3 linked regions of the Homo sapiens genome follow. The protein of the gene in region 3 purifies or fractionates together with the protein of the main gene of each other region. This does not show direct contact. Each region holds a gene or a part of one and is shown on either strand. Other genes may lie near its edges.

The links.
Region 1: the proteins of ZBTB8OS (region 3) and PAGE2 purify together in Homo sapiens (affinity purification with mass spectrometry; one large-scale study listed by BioGRID and IntAct). This does not show direct contact.
Region 2: the proteins of ZBTB8OS (region 3) and ATP8A2 fractionate together in Homo sapiens (co-fractionation; one large-scale study listed by BioGRID). This does not show direct contact.

What each region holds. Positions count from the first base shown.
Region 1 is NC_000023.11:55,087,503-55,091,880, reverse strand, and holds the start of PAGE2 (P antigen family member 2), read right to left. Parts: upstream 2,864-4,378; 5' UTR 2,778-2,863; exon of another isoform or gene 2,636-2,777; intron 1,869-2,635; 5' UTR 1,861-1,868; coding exon 1,777-1,860; intron 1,380-1,776; coding exon 1,271-1,379; intron 550-1,270; coding exon 424-549; intron 1-423.
Region 2 is NC_000013.11:25,374,974-25,378,623, reverse strand, and holds part of ATP8A2 (phospholipid-transporting ATPase IB), read right to left. Parts: intron 1-3,650. UniProt on the Homo sapiens protein: Catalytic component of a P4-ATPase flippase complex which catalyzes the hydrolysis of ATP coupled to the transport of aminophospholipids from the outer to the inner leaflet of various membranes and ensures the maintenance of asymmetric distribution of phospholipids.
Region 3 is NC_000001.11:32,643,959-32,647,608, reverse strand, and holds part of ZBTB8OS (protein archease), read left to right. Parts: intron 1-3,650. UniProt on the Homo sapiens protein: Component of the tRNA-splicing ligase complex required to facilitate the enzymatic turnover of catalytic subunit RTCB. Together with DDX1, acts by facilitating the guanylylation of RTCB, a key intermediate step in tRNA ligation.

The sequences.
Region 1 (4,378 bases), on a different chromosome or scaffold from region 3:
AAACATGACGTTTTAAATATATATATATACACATTGTAAAATGGCTACATCAAGCTAATTAATATATGCATTACTTCATATAGCTGTGAAGACACTTGAAATCTACTGTTTTAGCATGTTTCATTTCTTTCATATCGTAATCCAATTAGTTTTGACCCAATTTTTCTCTGTCTCTTGAAGTCTTGGCCTCAAGTGATCCTTCTGCCTCGGCCTCCCAAAGTGCTGGAATTAAAAGCATGAGCCACCACACCTGGCCCTCTATCCCTGATAGTGTGTAAGGCAGCCATTTGGGGTCTGAACTACATTCAAAGAACCTTCAGACGTGAAGTATGATATTAAAGTAGCAGTAATTTTACCTCTGTGTCACACAAAATACTGTGAAAATAGAAATACAATAGTTTGCATCTTAAATGAATAACAAACCTGCTTCCAGCACTTTAGTGAGATCAAAAGTGGGCATAATACCCTCCCTGACATCAGGACCATCTCCAGGCTCATCCTCTATCTTAAGCAGAGCCAGTTCCTGTTGAAAAGCTTCCATGTCAGGCCCTTAAAAGATAAAAAGGTCATCAATTTACAAATTAAAACATGAACTATGAACGAGGAAATGATAGTATTTATTCCCTCATCATTATGAAATAAAAACCGGTAGGCTAATTATTTCAGGAATCTGCTGCCAGGAAAACAGGAAAGCAGAGATATTCGAACATTGCCCTTTTCTTTCCCAAGGCTGGCCCTAGACAACTTACTTGTCCCTTTTATACTCATTTGTTCTTATTCTTATCACATTAAATCAGCCATTTGTTTGAGTCAGTCTGACTAGACTATGAGCTTTAGGCAAAAATTTGGCACTGACATCTCCAGCACTTAGTATATTACGTGGTATGAGGAAGCATCAATAAAGGTGTGTTAAAAAGTTTCTTAAAAAATACATGACGTGTCCACAGATGGCAGACTAGGAAGCTGCAAGCTGCCATTCTTCCACAGCAACAAAAAACAGAAAATGGCTGAACAAAGCATACAGGAGCTCTGGAAAAAGGTTTATGGCAACCATGAAAATACCCAATCAATAAAAAGCCTCCATCAAAGTGGTAGGAAAGCTTAGTGGCTTTTTATGCATCCTTGTCCCACCCCTCCACACAGCAGCAGTAGGAAATGTTTAAGATTCCTTCCTAATGCTTTCTGTCCTCCTGTTACTGGTATGTCATAAAATACAATGCATAAATAGACCTCCACCACCCATAAGCATTATTTTCCACTCTCCCTTCACCTTGAAAAGCAGGCACTGCTTGATTTTCAATCTCCCCACTAGGTGCAATACCCTGATTATCAGTTGGTGGTTCCTCTTCTTGACGTTTTTCCTCAGTGGGCTCCTGGACCTAAGGGTGTAAGTGTGTGTGTGAATAAAAAGTCAATAATATAAATACACAAATGCATATGTGCATCGAATCACACATCTAAAGACATTTTTCCAACATATATAAACACATACACACACATATAGATAGATAGATGATAGATAGATAGATAGATAGATAGATAGATAGATAGACAGACAGACAGATACATACATAGAGATAGAGAGAGAGAGAGAAATATCCATATCCATACAGGTAACACCAGAATATAGTATTCCTGAACCAAAGTTTCCTTCATGAGATGCCATCATCATTTTTTATCAGCATGGAACACCTGTATCAGTGTATGTATACTAGCTCAAAAATATTTTTAAAATAAATTGTGTTAATAGAAAACATCAAATGTTAAAAGACTCACAATCACAGATCCAACCGGCTGGGAAGACTCTTGGTCATTTCCTCTTTCTGAGGATTGGGATCTTGCTCTTAGAAGCTCACTCATATTTCCCACTGCAAACAGAATATTGTTATTTGGAAAAAGTGTGTAAGAACTTAGTTATATATATGAACATTCCACGGCAAAATGGTGATTTGTACTTTTTTAATTTTGAAAATATTTTCAAATTAAGTCACAGAGCAATGATAAGTACACATGCTTTCGAATCAAACTAAGGACAGATTTGTTTGTATCATAGTCGAAGAGGCATAGAAATCCCCTTAACGCCATAGCAAAAGACAGAGGACATTTCTGCGTTTTGGTTTCACAATTAGACTCTCCATCATGAAGACATTTAGGAAAAAACGGGCAGAGAATTGAAACTGAAATGACTACTGCTTTTGTCCCACTCTGATTTGCTAGGCCCATTTCACCCCCACACCCCTCTCAAAATCAAGTCTTGTTGGAAAGCACAGCCTCGCCCATTCCTTCCTATGATGTCCATGGCGGAGGTGAGAAATTGTGAAACAGAGTGAACGTTATGCTCCTCACAGGACACCTCTGCCAGGCACTCTACAGACCTCGGGGCCACAGTCACCAGCCCACCGCGCTCCCAGTTCCCAAGCCCCTTCGTTACTGACCACACGGTCCCTTCCCGCGTCCCTACTGAGGAGTTTGGAAACTGTCCTCTCTCAGAGGGTTCCAGGAGTTTTCGAGACTCAAACACCGCTAACTGCACCCCCAGCACTTGCCCCATCTTCAGGCAATCCCTCCCCTCTGCGGCCCACCTTCCTCCCTCATCCCAGCCCAGTCAGGACAAGTCCCATGGTGGCGTCGCGACCTGGGAGGAGCTGGATGACGGCCCCGAGGCCCTTTTCCCTCAGAAGCCACAGACTGTGCCGCAGGACCTGTCCAAAGCCAGCTGGCTCCTCCACACATTCTCTCACAACTAAATTCCCAGTAACACCGTTCTGCAGACCTACCGGCTGAGTCTTGGTCAGTGAGAAAGAATCAAGATGGCGGAAAGAATGAAGACACTCTCTCTCCTTGCAGACCTCTGTGCGGACACAAGACGGGCAGCAAGGCGCCTGCGCAACAACAGACACGCATAGCAACAGACATGGGCACCAACAGGTCTGTGCAGCATGCGCACTGAGTGGGGTATTCGCCTCGTGACTGAAGTTTTCCTGCCTCTGTGGAGTAAACCACCAGCGCTCCTGACAACGAAAATGAACTTGCAAAGCACTTTTCTTTTTTCCCCGCCCACCCTTTCTTTCACTTCCAGTGGCGTTAGAGAATATGAGCCTCAGGTTACTCTAATAATGTGTTTCAGAAAAATTCACCATCATAGAAATAAATCTTAAATATTTTAATACCTGTTTTATATACGCTTCCATAAATCATTTTCTTGCCTCCTTCACGAGTTTGCTGTCATGCTTGCAATGGTCTCACCCACTGCAATATCATAAGACATTCATAGTTTTTGGTTGCATTATTGTACGTTCAAAATCTTTGATCCATCTGGACAAAATTAAAGTGGTAGGAACTCAACATTATTTGTTGAATCCCTGTTTCACCCACTGTTTTGAAATGGCTCTTATCATCACCTACATCCCCACTCAATTTTGTATGTAACTCTCTTCTTTTAATTTTCTTCCATTGAGTTGTTTATACCTGTACCACTACTACACTATTTTAATTGCTGTAGCTTAATTATATTTGAAATGTGAAATAATGCTTGCCCTCCCTCATTGATTTCTCCTTTTCTATCAATTCTGACACGTTGGTCTTTCAGATGAACTTCAGAATCATTTGATCAGGTGCTAAAATATTACTGTTGAGACACTAGTTATTATTTTTATATTACATGTTAACTCTGGGACAATAGCCATCTTTCTATTTTAGAATCTCTCTATCAAAAAAAAAAAGCCACTCCTCAATTCCTCAAGTCTTTTAACATATCCCACACAATGATTGTGTTATTTGCTTCATATTAGTTCTTCACATTCAAATTAAATTTATTCATGGGCACTTTTATTTTTCTATTCCATTGCTGACACGTGTTTGCTTCTACTCCACTATGTTTTTCACACAAGTCAAACAATCTGTTTGGAAACCATGTGATTCTATACCTAGAAAATCCCAGAATCTCTGCCCAAAAGCTCCTTGATCTTATAAACAACTTCAGGAAAGCTTCAAGATACAAAATTAATGTATAAAAACCAGAAGTGTTTCTGTACACCAACTACCTTCAAGCGCAGAGCCAAATCAGAAACACAATCCCATTCACAATTGCCACAAAAAAAAAAAATAAAATACCTAGGAATACAGCTAACGAGGGAGGAGAACAATCTCTACTATGAGAACTACAAAACACTGCTCAAAGAAATCAGAGATGACACAAACAAATGGAAAAACATTTCATGCTCGTGAACAGGAATAAGCAATACTGGCAAAATGGCCTAATTGACCAAAGCAATTCATACATTCAATGATATTCCTATTAAAGTACCAATGACATTCCTCACAGAATTAGAAAAAAAGTACTTTAAAATTCATATGGAACCAAAAAAGAGCCCAAATA
Region 2 (3,650 bases), on a different chromosome or scaffold from region 3:
ATGTCAGCTTGGAAAGCAGAAACTCATACTAACCAACTCTGAAGTGAGAACTCCAGTGAAAGCCAAAAATAACAAAGTTCTCTTCTCTGTGACAAGAAAGGGGTATTAAAAATTCAGGCAACCTGAAACAAACCAATCAAAATGGCATAAATCTTCCTGCAATATTTTACCATATTCCTGAATGCAGCTTTTTCTACACTCACCTGGGAATGATTGTGATGGAAAGCAAAATGGGCAGTATTTATAAACTAATGATTACAAAAAAAAAAATGCAAAACTCTGGAAAAAAAACAGAGTTAATGAGGATTAGATCACTTTTTAGCATGAAATATTATATGATAAGCTTTACAGGGGCAGTAAGGGAGGGAAGAAATGAACCGTCAGAGCAAGAGACCTATTCACATAAACAAGCACACATGTATCTATGGTAATATTGGGCCCAGTAACCCTCCCCCACCACAGCTGGGGAGTGACCAGCATCATTCATGTGCTCTTTTTTTTTTTCTTTAGAGGAAGGGTCTCGCTCTGTTGTCCAGGCTGGAATGCACTGGTGCAGTAGCTCATTGCAGCCTCAAATTCCTGGGCTCAAGCAATCCTTCTGCCTCAGCCTCTCAAGTAGCTGGGACTACAGGCATGTGCCACAATGCCTGGCTATTTATAATTTTTTTGTAGAGATGGGGTCTCACTATGTTGTACAGGCTGGTCTCGAACTCCTGGCCTCAAGTGAACCTCCCACCTGGGCCTCCCAAAGTGCTGAGATTACACACGTGAGCCAACAGGCTTGGCCATTCAAGTACTGTTTTGTTTTGTTTTGCTTTGTTTTGTTTTGTTAGAGAGAGAGTCTCACCCTGTTGCCCAGACTGGAGTGCAATGGTGCAATCTTGGCTCACCACAACCTCCACCTCACAGACTCAAGTCATTCTCCTGCCTCAGCCTGCCGAGTTACAGGGATTACAGGCACGCACCATTACCACTTGGCTAATTTTTGTACTTTTAGGGTTTCACTATGTTGGCCAGGCTGGTCTTGAACTCCTGACCTCATATGATCCACCCGTCTCGGCCTCCCAAAGTACTGGGATTGCAGACATGAGCCACTGTGCCCAGCCATCCAGGTACTTTTACGACAGATCTATGCAGGCAGACCCAGGCAGCCACTGGGGTGTGACAGGTCCCCACTCCTTACTCTATTCCTGGAAGGGCTCTCTCCTGTCCTGGAGTAGGTCCTGTTTCTGTGTTTGCCCTTGATAATGATGGGGAGAAACTCCCAAGGCATGGAAGTGAGATCACTTTTATTTTTAGCCCTTCTTAATGGTTGTTAACATTTGTGCTGAGCACTTTTCCCAGCCTAAGTGGATGTAAATAACATCTTGTATCCAGTGTGGTATTGACCAGAAGTTATATTTAGTAAATGTAAAGATCCAAGGAGGAAGAATAGAGACCCTTCTTTAGAGGCACTGTATACACTTCGTCTCATAAATGCTTAAAAACTTTTTCGAAAATAACTGTAAAATATTCCATTTGTCTAGCTGGCACCTCTGAGGAGGGTTTAAGATAACACATCCGTTGTAAATGTAAAATCAATTACTGGACAACGGAAGGCGTCCGCAGAGGTGCTTATTGGCCACCTGTGGGGTAGAAGACGGCCTTGTAGTCAGGACTTCTTTCAACAGAAGGTGATGACCTTCAGAGCCACTACAGGATGAACACTCTGTCCAGAATCAGAGCTCCTGGTGAGTAAGCGCTTATTTCTGCAATCATTTACACCTGGATAATGACAGTAAAAGAACATTTAAATTCTCCTGTGATGACTATGAGGTCCTCTCCTAGTTAGGCCTCCATCATTAGATTTAGAAAGGAAAATAATAACAAAAGTTTTGCCAATTCTTCTATTACATAGGATAAATACCTAGCTGGAGGACTTTGCCTTAGATGACGATGGGCAGCATGGGAGAAATCTAACATGTTGTCGATATCATCTTGATAATGTGTCAGTTAGTGCATGCACTTATATGCACATACCCACAGACCACTACCAACCACCCATGAAGTGCAAATTCTTATTTTTATCTTTATCTGTAACAGAGGTAAATGAATCTTTTGAATGCCATATAGGTAGAAATGACAGTGTTAAAACCTGAATTCAATTCTCTTTAACCCTAAATTCTGGGGTTTTAACCCCTAGATATACTGCCCTTAAGAAACTTCCAAACAGAATCTAGACCATTAGACCAAGTCCAAAAACTGCCCATGACAGAGTTCAGTAAAATCTGTAATTACTGAGCACACAAAGGGTAGTATAGGAAATGGAAGCAGGAGAAATTAGATTATTATCTTTATTTCTTATCAAGGAAGAGAAAACCATATAGAATCAATGAGCGTATTCTGTTGCATTTAGATCTGATATTGAACTAGGCAGGTGGGCAATGATAAGAACCACACTGGACTTGCTAATTAGCTTGTCCTGACAGAAATTAAGCAGCAAGTAAGGAATTTCTCCGAATTTTTTTTTCATTTGTAAAGTGAAGGGATCAGACCATCTCTGAGATATCCTCCAGCTATTACATTCTCACATTAGCACGGCTTGTATTTTCAGCTGCCCTGATTCTCCTCCTTGAAACTTGGGGCAGGTTGTTCTGGCAAAAACAGAAAACACACATTAAAAAATACCTTTGATGACCAGCAGAGGGCAGGGTGAGTTGGGTGTGGAATTTAGAGGAGGGCTCCAGGGGCAGTTTCTAGAAGGTTTGTAGTCCTGGTCCAAACGGTGGCTCACGCCTGTAATCCCAGCACTTAGGGAGGTCGAGGTGGGTGGATCACGAGGTTAAGAGATCGAGACAATCCTGGCCAACATGGTGAAACCCCGTATCTACTAAAAATACAAAAATTAGCTGAGTGTGGTGGTGGGAGCCTATAATCCCAGCTACTTGGGAGGCTGAGGCAGCAGAATTGCTTGAACCCGGGAGGCGGAGGTTGCAGTGAGCCGAGATCACACCACTGCACTCCAGCCTGACGACAGGCTCAAAATAAAAAAAAAAAAAGAATATTTGTAGTCCTCTGGGTTCTGCACTTGGTCTGTGCACTTCCTGCCTGCCCGTTCTTTCACTAAGTCCAGAAATGCGGTAAGATAGGGAAGAGCTTCTGCCATAGACAGCACTGATGCTGTCGTCCATAGAAAACAACTTCCTTCCTTTCTGTCCCCACTCCTCCCCTCCCACAACCCCCAACACCCATATTCACATGTACACCCTTAATTTCCTTACTCATCTGGGTCAAGGTGAGAGAAGAGAGTTGAGAGCTCTTCCCACGTGCACTGTAGTCACTGCCTAGACCATAAGCTCTGTGAGACACACTGCTGTGTTCCCTGCTCTGTCTCTAGCACCTAGAACCATGCCGGGCACATAGAAGGCACTGATATATATTTGTCACTGACTTTGTTTCCATTCTAAGGGGCTCCACCCTGAGCAGACTGTAAGCACTATACGGGCAAGAGGATCCCCATGGTCACAAATCTTTGGATTTTCATCATTTGGTAAAATGAGACACACTGGCACCAAGTAGATATTTGGGGAAAGCTAAAACTGATCAAAGTGCAATTGAATATGCAGAACAAGATAAGAGTCAAAGATGGCTCAGACAAGAAAATATTCCAG
Region 3 (3,650 bases):
AGCTCAGGCAGTAATGTTAGCAATGGGGAGCTGTTGTAAATATAGAAGAAGCTTTGTGAGCTCATGTCCTGCTGTGCTGCCTGGTTCCTAACAGGCCACCAACTGGTACTGGCCAGGGGGTTGGGGACCCCCTGCATTGACCCTTTCTTTCTTTTCTTTTTTTTTTTTTTTTGAGACAGAGTCTCGCTTTGTCATCCAGGTTGGAGTACAGTGGCATGATCTCCAGTCACTGCAACCTCTGCCCCCCAGGTTCAAGTAATTCTTCTGCCTCAGCCTCCTGAGTAGCTGGGACTACAGACATGCACCACCACACCTGGCTAATTTTTTTTTTTTTTTTTTTTTGAGACAGAGTAGCTGGGATTACAGGTATGCACCACCGTGCCTGGCTAATTTTGTATTTTTAGTAGAGATGGGGTTTCTCCATGTTGGTCAGGGTGGTCTCGAACTTCCAATCTCGAACTTCCAATCTCAGGTGATCCGCCCGCCTCGGCCTCCGAAGTGCTGGGATTACAGGCGTAAGCCACCACGCCTGGCATTTTTTTTTTTTTTTTTTTTTTTTTTTTTTTTGAGACAGTATCTTGCTCTGTCTCCCAGGCTGGAGTGCAGTGGCACCATCTCAGCTCACAGCAACCTCCGCCTCCTGGGTTCAAGTGATTCTCTTGCCTCAGCCTTCCGTATGGCTGGGATTACAGGTGCCCACCACCACACCCGGCTAATTTTTGTGTTTTTTTTTTAGTAGAGACAGGGTTTCACCATGCTGGCCAGGATGGTCTTGAACTCCTGACCTCAAGTGATCCGCCCACCTGAGCCTCCCAAAGTGCTGGGGTTACAGGCATGAGCCACCACTCCCGGCCAACCCTTTTTTTTATGGCTTCTAAGATAAGAAGTCATACTCAGGGAATGCCTTGTCCACTGAGATTTTAAAATAATTTTCCTAATTTTTTTTTTATACATTTGAAAATAGAACTTTTGGCCGGCGGATCACGAGGTCAGGAGATTGAGGCCATCCTGGCTAACATGGTGAAACCCTGTCTCTACTAAAAATACAAAAAAATTAGCCGGGCGAGGTGGCGGGCGCCTGTAGTCCCAGCTACTCGGGAGGCTGAGGCAGGAGAATGGCGTGAACCCGGGAGGCGGAGCTTGCAGTGAGCCGAGATTGCACCACTGCACTCCAGCCTGGGCAACAGAGTGAGACTCTTTCTCAAAAAAAAATAATAATAAAATAAAAAACTTTAATTGAATAACCTGGAATTAGATACCAAGAAAAAAAAATCTTTTTTTTTTTCCCTGAGACAGTCTCATTCTGTCACCCAAGCTGGAGTAGTGCAGTGGTGCGACTTTGACTCACTACAACCTCTGCCTCCTGGACTCAAGTGATCCTCCAACCTCAGCCTCTTGAGTAGCTGGGATTACAGGCGTGCACCATCATACCCAGCTAATTTTTCATTTTTAGTAGTGATGGAGTTTCACCATGTTGGCCAGGCTGGTCTCGAATTCCTGACCTCAGATGATCTGTCTGCCTTGGCCTGCCAAAGTGCTGGGAGTACAGACGTGAGGCACTGCACCCAGCCAAAATACATCTTTTATTGAAGTATGATGTACTTATAGAAGAGTGCCCGTGTCATAAGTGAATTTTCAGAAACTGAGTACACTTGTATAAGTAGTATAATAGTTCTCAAAATGTAATCTCTGTATTCCTGGGGTTCCCTATATCCTTCCAGAGGGTCTGTGATGTCAAAACTATTTTCATAATAATACTGAGGTGTTATTGTTTTCACTGTGTTGATATTTGTACTGGTGGTACAAAATCAGTGGTTGGTAAAACTGGCCCCAGCCTGTAGTCCCAGCTACTCCAGAGGCTGAGGTGGGAGCATCACTTGAACCCAGGAGTTTGAGACTCGGCTTGGTCTTTTGGAGCTATAATTGTACCACTGCACTCTATCCTGGGCTACAGAGTAAGGCTGGGCTCTATCTTTTGGAGCTATAATTGCCCCCACTGCACTCCATCCTGGGCTACATAGCAAGACTCTGTCTGTGAAAGAAAAAGCAAAAACAAAATCTCTTGGCCCTTTAGTACAAATTGAGACAGCAGCACCAAACTGTATGCTAGAAAGGGTCTCCCTCTGTCTCCCAGGCTGGAGTATAGTGGCGCTGTCATGGCTCACTGCAAGCTTGAGCTCCTAGGCTCAAGCTGTTCTCCCACCTCAGCCTCCTGAGTAGATGGGACTACTGTCTATGCCTGGCTACTACACCTAGCTAATTATGTTATTTTTTATAGAGATGGGGTCTTGTCGTGTTGCCTAGGCTGATCTTGAAATCCTGGCCTTAAGCAATCGTCCTGCCTTGGCCTCCCAAAGTGCTGGGATTACAGGTGTGAGCTACTGCACCTAGCCCTAAGGACATTCTTGAATGAAAATGACTTTTTTTTTTTGAGATGAAGTCTCACTCTGTTGACAGGCTGGAGTGCAGTGGCGCCATCTCGGCTCACTGCAACCTCCTCCTCCCAGGTGCAAACAATTCTCCTGCCTCAGCCTCCTGAGTAGCCAGGACTGCAGGCACACGCCACCATGCCCAGCTAATTTTTGTATTTTTAGTAGAGACGGGGTTTCACCATGTTGGCCAGGATGGTCTCAATCTCTTGACCTCGTGATCTGCCCACCTCGGCCTCCCAAAGTGCTGGGATTACAGGCGTGAGCCACCGTGTCTGGCTGCCTTTTTATTATTATATTATTTTTAATTTTAAGTGCGTGGTAGTAAATTAAACACCTGGGTGAGGTGGCTCGTGCCTATAATCCTAACACTTTGGGAGGCCTAAGCCGGAGGATTTCTTGAACCCAGGATTTCCAGATTAGTCTGGGCAACACAGTGAAACACATCTCTACAAAAAAAAAAAAAAAAAAAAAAGCTGGGTGTGGTGGCATGTGTGTGTAGTCCTGTAGTCGCACCTACTGGGGAAGCTGAGCCAGAAGGATTGTTTGAGCTCAGGCGTTCAAGGTTGCAGTGGGTTATCATCATGCCACTATACTCCCGGCCTGGGTGACAGAGTCCCTGACTCCAAAAAAAAAAAAAAAAAAGGAAAAAGAAAAGAACATTCTTAGGATAGAAGCAGTGGCTCACACCTATAATCCCAACACTTTGGGAGGCTGTAATGCCCAACCTGGTATTTACTAACTCTGTTTTTAGACTCTCCCTTTTCCCTTAATCACCTAGTCTTGTTTCCACCTGAATTGACTCTCCCTTAGCTAAGAGAGCCAGAGAGACTCCATCTTGGCTCTTTCACTGGCAGCCCCTTCCTCAAGGACTTAACTTGTGCAAGCTGACTCCTAGCACATCCAAGAATGCAATTAACTGATAAGATACTGTGGCAAGCTATATCCGCAGTTCCCAGGAATTCGTCCGATTGATAAACGCCCAAAGCCCCGGATCTATCACCTTGTAATAGTCTTAAAGCCCCTGCACCTGGAACTGTTTACTTTCCTGTAACCATTTGTCCTTTTAACTTTTTGACTACTTTACTTCCGTAAAATTGTTTTAACTAGACCCCCCCTCCCCTTCCTAAACCAAGGTATAAAAGTTAATCAAGCCCCTTCCTTGGGGCCGAGAGAATTTTGAGCATTAGCCGTCTCTAGGTCGCCGGCTAATAAAAGACT